Linked DNA regions of Homo sapiens: all the other regions are linked to region 3. Evidence: fine-mapped expression QTL. A gene starts in region 3. Each other region holds a variant in brackets. All regions are shown on one strand. Distances are between the middles of the regions. Region 1 overlaps ATP1A4 (ATPase Na+/K+ transporting subunit alpha 4). Region 2 overlaps FCRL6 (Fc receptor like 6). Region 3 holds the start of SLAMF8 (SLAM family member 8).

The links. PIP is the estimated chance that this variant, and not a neighbour inherited with it, causes the effect.
Region 1: its variant is fine-mapped to the expression of SLAMF8 in macrophages (Nedelec 2016, PIP 0.90).
Region 2: its variant is fine-mapped to the expression of SLAMF8 in whole blood (INTERVAL, PIP 0.94).

What each region holds. Positions count from the first base shown.
Region 1 is chr1:160,161,930-160,164,689 of GRCh38, forward strand. It overlaps ATP1A4 (ATPase Na+/K+ transporting subunit alpha 4), which reads left to right. Exons shown (of 22, transcript NM_144699.4): 7 at 2,227-2,495. Among named protein-coding and RNA genes, the nearest start is that of ATP1A4, 12 kb to the left of the region's middle. RefSeq lists an enhancer at 490-579. The variant C/T (reference allele first, on the strand shown) is at 1,184.
Region 2 is chr1:159,802,536-159,805,295 of GRCh38, forward strand. All of the region lies in intron 1 of FCRL6 (Fc receptor like 6), which reads left to right. It overlaps LOC105371464 (a long non-coding RNA gene), which reads right to left. Exons shown (of 3, transcript XR_922195.2): 1 at 3-2,760. Among named protein-coding and RNA genes, the nearest start is that of FCRL6, 1.6 kb to the left of the region's middle. The variant T/C (reference allele first, on the strand shown) is at 1,557.
Region 3 is chr1:159,825,236-159,827,995 of GRCh38, forward strand. It overlaps SLAMF8 (SLAM family member 8), which reads left to right and starts at 1,638. Exons shown (of 5, transcript NM_020125.3): 1 at 1,638-1,703. The coding sequence starts at 1,664.

The sequences.
Region 1 (2,760 bases), 340 kb after region 3:
AGTATGAGTCTATATTGGTCCTACTGGAAACCCTAAGTTCATCTAAATGATGAGAAGAAAGAGAAAGAAACTAATTTTCAAGTGCCTATGATGTACCTAACCTTCTAGACTCTTAAAAATATTCAGTCCTCACAGTTTAGTAAGTGCTTTCATTCCATTTCGAAGATGAGGAAGCCTGACTCTCAGCATTTAAGTAACTTGCCCCAAGGAAAAGAGCTAGTAATTTAGAAAGCTGAACTTCCGGCCCTGAGTCTTTCTGCTTTTAAAATAAATGCAGTTTCAGTGATATGTTGCCTAAGTGATTCTGACTCTGATTTCAATGGTAGAAATTTCAGTCATTATGGTAAAGCAGGAAGAATTACTTTAAGAAAAGAATTTTGTCATGCCCCTCATTTCAAGGTGAGTGGCCTGCATCATGTGTGTGTAAAGCCAAACATGATGTCCAAGCTGCCCTTCTGACTGGGGCAGTGCTGGTGGAGAGGAAAGAGGGACCTCATAAGCACAGAAGCCCAGCTGTTATGGCCCGTGCTACCCAGCAGAGGTCAGATTGGCTCCAGCCAGCAAAGCAGGGAGGGGGCGCAAGTTACAGCAGGATTTCTCAACCACTCACATTTGGGGCTGGATAATTCTTTGTTGTGCGGGACAGGAGAGCTGTCTTGTGCGTGGCAGGATGTTTAACAGCATCCTGGCCTCTACCCACTGCATGCCAGTAGGAGCCTTCTCCCACCCCAGTAGTGACCACCAAAAATGTCTCCAAGCATTGCCAAATGTCCCCAGGGAAGGGGGTTGGTGGGTAGGGATTGCCTCCAGTTGAGAACCACTGTGTTAGGGGATAAGGGGATGTTGGAACATAGGGCTCTACCAGAAGGGTAACCACTATTCCTGGGATCTAGAAACTCCTCAGCTGCTGAGGGCAAGATAAGAACTATATAGGCAATAGAAGATACTCAGATTAAGTATAATAAAGGCCTTCTTGACAGTGAAGGAAATTAGGCAATAAAATTGGGTATTTCAGGAGAACTGTGAGACCTCTTCAGAGATTTTTCAGACTAGAAGACCTTTATTTGTATAAACTAAATATGAGGAGAGCAGAACATAATGACCTCTCAGAGGGCCTTGAGTCTCCAGTTTGTTTTTGACCATTGACAGCTTGCTCTTTGTGGGAACCAAACCAAACAGCTTC[C/T]TCAATTCAGACTCGGCATGTCTTGGGTGACCATCTCTGATGGAAAAAACAAGAAACAGCTTTTTTTTTTCTCTACACTCACGCTGAACACAGAACACTTCTGTGTCCAACATGTGTAGACAGTTCTCCCCACCAACAACCAGTTCTCCAAAGGACAATGATTGGGTGTCCTATAATTCAATTCAACTCTGACACAATCCACCTGGAGATAGCATCAGATCCCACAGGTTAGGGCTCAGCCCCACAAGACAGTCCCTAACTCTAGACCCCAGTCACAAGTCCTAGGTTATGGCCTGGCTATAAATTGGGGTTCCCACGACTCCCTCCTCAGGTTTGATTAATTTGCTAGGATGGCTCACAGAACTCAGGGAAACACCTTACTTAGGTTTACCCATTATTATAAAGGATATTACAAGGATACAGATGAGCAGTCATATGGAAGAGACGCACAGGACAAGGCACGTGGGAAGGAGCATGGAGGAGCGTCTGTGCCCTCTCCTGTCCAGGGTGCCCTCCAGTAACCCTCCACATGGTCATACACATAGACACTTTCCAAACCCAGTCCTTTGAGGTTTTTAATGGAGATTTCATTACATAGGTATAATCGGTTACATTATTAGCCATTGGTGATCAACTCAACCTTCATCCCTCCTCCCTTCCAAAGAGGTCAGTCCATGAACTGCAAGTTCCAACTCTCTAATCACATGGTTATCTGCCCTGGCCACCAGCCCCATCCTGTGGCTATCCAGGAACCCACCAAGAGTCACCTCATTAGAACAAAGATACTCCTATCACCCAGGAAACTCCAAGGCATTTAAGAGTTCTGTGTCAGACACTCCTATCACTCAAGAAATTACAAGGGTCTCAGGAGCTCTGTGTCCAGAACTGGGTCAAAGACCAAATATTAGAACAAAAGATTCTCCTAGCACCCCTATCTTTAAGGGTTTTTAGAAGCTCTATGTCAGGAAGTGGGGGCAGAGACCAATATCTATACTTCTTATCATATCACAACATCACATTGCCCTCTCCTGCTTCATCCACAGGAACCGCCCGGGGTATTGTGATTGCTACGGGAGACTCCACAGTGATGGGCAGAATTGCCTCCCTGACGTCAGGCCTGGCGGTTGGCCAGACACCTATCGCTGCTGAGATCGAACACTTCATCCATCTGATCACTGTGGTGGCCGTCTTCCTTGGTGTCACTTTTTTTGCGCTCTCACTTCTCTTGGGCTATGGTTGGCTGGAGGCTATCATTTTTCTCATTGGCATCATTGTGGCCAATGTGCCTGAGGGGCTGTTGGCCACAGTCACTGTGAGTAGACAGGGTGGAAAATGGCCTCAGGGCAGACAAACCACCCCAGGGAAAAGGGATCACTAGCGTCTCTTTTGTTGTTGAACCTTTCAAGTGCAGGGTCTTCCTGATATGTAAATAGGTATCAGGAATAATTTAGCTCTCAATATTACACTGACTCCTTCTGCCCATATATTTCGGTGTCTTCTCTTTCCTCAATGAGAGAGGAAGCAAGTTTCAATGGAAAGTGCATTGGATTATCAGTCACTGAGAGTGAGTTCTAGTA
Region 2 (2,760 bases), 23 kb before region 3:
ACCTTTCCCAATTCCAGTGGGTTTGTGGCTGGAGCTCAAGACAGGTGTGTGCACCTGGGCATGCTTGGGAGAGATGGGCACTGGGGTAGGAGAAACTCCTCAGTGTTTCCTACCCCGTAGTCCTGGGTCCTTGGCAGCGCAGCCCTTTGATATGTCAGAGATAAATTAGGGAGGCAGAAAATCACATTACAAAGTCCCCTAACTTCCCAATGACATTTCTACCTTGTGACATCAGGTTAAAATACTAATCAGAGCTGTCTCAAAAGGAAATGGAGGTTGCAGGAGGGAAGGAGGCTGCTGGGGGCAACAGGGAAGGAGTCAGGGAAATGAGGGGAAACAGTCCCAGGCATTTTGCTCAGCAATGGGAGGTGGAATTTTACAGGGTGACATATTTTTATGGAGCCTCAGCATTTTCTTAGAACCAGGTAACAATGGCCAGACCTCTCACCTGGTTGAAAGGCCTGTGCTCTGAGTAACCAAAGCCCTTTTCAAATTGACTGTCTCTCTTCCGCCTACATCTTCTCTCTGTTGGGAGCTGTTTCAGATCCATGGGGCTGGTTTGAAGAATCAACTCCATTGTCTGATCCATGTCTCTCTCTCTCTTCTCTCCATTTCTTCTCATGCAGGCTACTTGTAACTAAGAGAGCTGGTCTAAGGGTAGAGGATTGCACGCAGAGGGTCACTGGGCTCCCCCAGACCCAGCTCAGTCTCAGCCAGTGTCACCCCCCTTATACCTAAAAGAAATAATTTGGCATATATTTTGTTTCACTTTACAGTTTCCAAGTGGACCTACTTTTTGTTTAATTCTTGGTCCCAATAGCTTGCTTGCTATTTGTATTCCTTGAACTAGAAAAGCAAAACTGTTCCTAAATATAACCTCTTCCTGGACAGAGTTTGTGAGAATTTGACCCTGTGAGGAAAATGCCCCTTCCACTCAATGTTCCTTCTCCAGCATAGCATGCTACTCGTGTGTTCTATGAATGGCCATTTGGACAAATGAAAAGGTCTAATGCTCACACTGAGGCGGGGACAGGATAGCCTAATGCCTGGATATACTCCAGGCAGAAGACTCCCAGGGGCAAATGGCACTACCGGCACTACCTTGTAAAAGGAACAGCCCTTGGACTTGTCTAGATACAGTCTGAGAGTGTTCCAGCTTGGAACCCAGGACGAGGATGACAGACAGCAAATGAGGAGAGGAAGGGAATCAGTGACCGGCTGACTGGTGCACAGTGTAATGGAGAATCCAGCACCAGCAAATTTGGTCCCACTTGATGCTCAGGGACCCTGGAAAAACAGCCTAAAACACAGACACTGGGGCTGGGTGTGTAGCAACATTTATCTTACCATAAGTGTAGAGCTGCTATTTCCTCTCTCAAGAGCAGGGTGTGGTCATAATAAATTGGTGGCTATTACTATTATTGGCTGTCAGGGCTCCGGGAGGAAAGGAATCCTGACATTGAGCATGTGGGGACCTGGCTGAATGTGAAATATGTATTTAAAGTTTGGGAAATTAGGCTTAATTTTCTTCTGAGCTGAACATTAGCCAACTTCCC[T/C]CCTACCACTGGAGGCTGCTCCCCGCATTCTCACACAGCGTCCATAGGAGGTGTCATGGGGTCCCATACAGCCCTCCCAGCAATGTGACTGCTGCAGCTTGGCACTGCAGCCTGTTCCACAGTGCTAGAGCTCAGTGGTGAGAGAGTTCTTCATGTTGAGCCGAAATCTGCCTCCATGATCCCTCTAGTTTCCATTTCTGTCCTATAAAGTAACTCAGAATAAGTCTCCCCCTTCTTTTAAGCTTAGCCCACCAAGTATTTTGTGTCTTTCCTCTGTTGCATCTTTCCCAGATAAATATCTCCCGATCCCTCAGAAACTTTAAGAGGAAATTATCCTGCTCCTAGAGTTGGCAGGGGCTCCTGCCTTCATTTTTCGGAATTCTATTACGCAACTTGGTTTGACCATAGCTCTTGGCCACTTCATGATACTGTCACCTCATCTTCAGCCTATAGCTAATGGAGGTCCCTGGGCCCTCATTGCAGGAACTGCTGTAAGCAGGTGTCACCCCCTGTGTATGTTCCCAGTTGGCTGCTGTTTTGATTGCAGAAACCAATTTTGTAATCCCACCTCCAAGATCTTGCAGTACCATGGGGAGCAAGTCATTGAGATTTGGGGACAGGAGCTCATTTTAAGTGCATCTATGCTTCCTGAGTGCCTTCTGTCTTGTTTTTGGCTTCAGTAGTCTCAACCCTGTTTGTTTAGCACTTTGTAGCTGCACAATTGTTTTCCAGTGAGGTGGGGAAGGGAAGGAAGACATAACTACAGAGTAAGGTCTCTGTCACTCTGAGGTCAGGCCTTCTTTCTGCTTTCAGTTAATGTAGTAACCACTTTCCCAGGCAGTGGGTCAACATAACCTTCACAACTACACTGTAAGAAAAAAATGACTATTATCATTTCTATTATGTGATATGACAGAATGAGATATTGAAGGCTCTTGGAACTTAGACAACTTGTTCAAGGTCGTACAGAAAGAGGCAAATTCATGACTCAAGTCCAGGTCATCTGATTCCAAATCCTGCATGCTTTCCACTACACCGAGCTCATAGATGGGGGTTAGGGGTGGAGATGGAGGGATGATAAAGAAGAGACTCATTGTTCTGCACACTCTTGAGAGCATATGACTGAGCTGACCCTGAGCTGAATAGAGAATTGAGCTGAAAGATTCCACCTGTGTCCAAAGTAGTGTAGAAAGCAAAGATGATA
Region 3 (2,760 bases):
CAATCTGCCCCCAACCTCCTTTTCCATTCTTCCCACCCAGCCCTAAAGGATTCCTGTCTGCTGTCCCTTGTCCTCTGTGGAGCCTACTTGGTATTTTCCCACAGCCACATCCCTGCACGCTCTGCTCTCCCCTCCTGCCCAGAGCCCACCCCCAACCTCTGGCTCTCTCCTTTCCTCATATTATCTAAACCATGCCCATCTTCAAGGCACAGCTCAAATTCCACCTTCTCAAGAAGCGTCCCCTGCCCAGATCCGCGAAGCCCTCTTTCCCACCCACTTCTGAGGACTGACTACCTGTTTGCACAAAGTGGTGTCTGTCTGCAGATAACCCTTCACTTTCCTTGGTGTACCTATCTCTACATTTTGGTTGTGAGTACCTGGAGGGCAAAAACCTTATCCCAAAATCCTCCTGCTCACCACCCACCCCCACCCCATCCTATATGCCTAGTTCCTGGCTGAGTCCAAAGCTCAGTGTCCAGTTTGATTGACAGGCGAGAGGCTGTGCAGGACCAGATACGATGAGCCACACTCCAGACTAGCAGGAATTTTCCTCAGGGGCAACACGTCCTCTAAAAACCTTCACTGGCAAGAAACCAAGAAACTTGAAGTGAGAAGAGAAACAGGATGAGGAGGGGATAACTGTGGCAAAATAGACCACACTTCAAAGGCTGAGGTTCAAGTTCCAGCTCTGCCTCTCTGTGAGCTCTGCAAGGGGCCTAACCTCACTCTGGTTTTCACATTTTCCCATTTCTAACCAGGTAACAAGATGATCCTCTCAGAGGAGAGTTGCAAGGCTTACATAAAGCCAGATGTGTAGCCATGTCTAGAATGTACTCACTCACTTAACAAATACTCATGAAACATCTGTAATGTGCCAAGCACTGAGGGCAACACAGAAGGGAACAAAAGACTGGCTAAACAGTCTGTGAAAACCAGAAAACTGTCATCAACAACACAGCAAGAGTAAAGAGGGAGGTGTGGGCATGCACAGGACACAAGGAGAGGGCCTCTCACCTGCCTGTGGTCAGGAAGCCTGGAAGGATGTCCTCGCCGACTGCACAGCCATGTTCTGTTTGCAAGGATAGAGGGAGCAGCATGCCTAGTCGGGGTGGTGGGGAAAGTACAACACAGGGAAGTGTGAAATCAGTAGTTCTGAGAAGGAGGCCTTCTGGCTTGGGATGGCTGGAGGGCAGAATGACTGTGGGCGACCAGCCTGGAGAAGAAGGCCTGACTCAGGAGGGCCTGCATGCAGAGCAGAGTTAGTCCTCATCCTCAGGTCCACGGGAGGCCACAGAAGCATTTTAAGCTAGAATGAGGATGACAGATAGTAGTGAGGCAGGCTGAGATGCAGGAAGGCCAGCGAGATCCAGCAAGGAGGATGTGGCTTGTGTGGGGGCTGTTGTCGCCACGTGTTAGCCAACCATGTGCATGTGAAAGAGGCTGACTTACAAGAATCTGCTCCTGTAAGCCCAGAGAGGCCCAGGGACAACTTCCACTTTATTCTGGATGTTTTCACTTTTGGGACATCCTGTTCTGAGTCAAGATTCCTCCTTCTGAACATGGGACTTTCCAGAAGGACCACAGCTCCTCCCGTGCATCCACTCGGCCTGGGAGGTTCTGGATTTTGGCTGTCGAGGGAGTTTGCCTGCCTCTCCAGAGAAAGATGGTCATGAGGCCCCTGTGGAGTCTGCTTCTCTGGGAAGGTAAGTGGGGCAGGCAGATAGCCTGTCCTCGGAGAGCTGAAGGCCCCTCCCCAGCTGCCTATGCCAGACGTCTGGGCAGGGATCCCTCGACCTGGGTGAGAACCCAGAAGCTGAGGGTGGGTAGGAAAGACTAGAACAAGCTCTTGGGCAACATTTTAAGCTAGGCAGATACAAAGAGATGCAGGGTCCTGGGAGGGAGGAGGTGGCAGCTTGAGGGGTATTCTTATCTGTGAGACATGAGCTGTTTTGTGGCCCAGAGCAGTAAAAACGGAGCCAGTGGGTGATACTGCTGGTTTGGAGAGAAAGTCGGCTGTGAGAATGGTGAGGACCCGGCAGTGTTAGCATGCAGAAACTCTGCAGAGTTTGAGGAGAGTAGCAGAGGGCAGGGCAGAGCAGGGTTCCCCACAATCAGCAGAGTGTGTTTTCAACAGCCTGTGGGGGAGCTGAGGTCCCTCCCTACAGGCCTTTATAAGGGGAGGCAAGTACTAAGTAGGGATGAGAGAGGCTAAATGTGGCCCACGTGGACTTAGGGGTGGCCGACGGTGGTGTGATGTTGGGATGGCTGATACACGGGGTCTCCTCCACACCGGGCGATCCCTCTATCCATCTGATGCCTGAGTTCCCTTCCTTGGTCAACAAGCAGCCAACATGACATGGGTCAACACTGCCGGGCCATGGATGAGGGTTTATGGGGTGCAGCAAAGATTAAGATGATATTGTTTACATCAGAGGCTCATAGGGACTTTGGGTTGCTTTGTTTCATCTCCTTGCCTGAGTTCCTGGCCCTGAGAGCTCCAAAGCCTGCAGATTTCTTCAATATTTCTAAACATGTGCAGGAAATCACACCTTAACCTCAAAAAAGGCCTTGGTCTGTTTGGTGAGACAAAAATAATTTGCCTTTTTTTTTTTTCTTTGAGACGGAGTCTTGCTCTGTCACCCAGGCTGGAATGCAATGGTGCATCTCAGCTCACTGTAACCTCTGCCTCCTGGGTTCAAGCGATTCTCCTGTCTCAGCCTCCTGAGTAGCTGGGATTACAGGTCACTGCCACTAAACCCG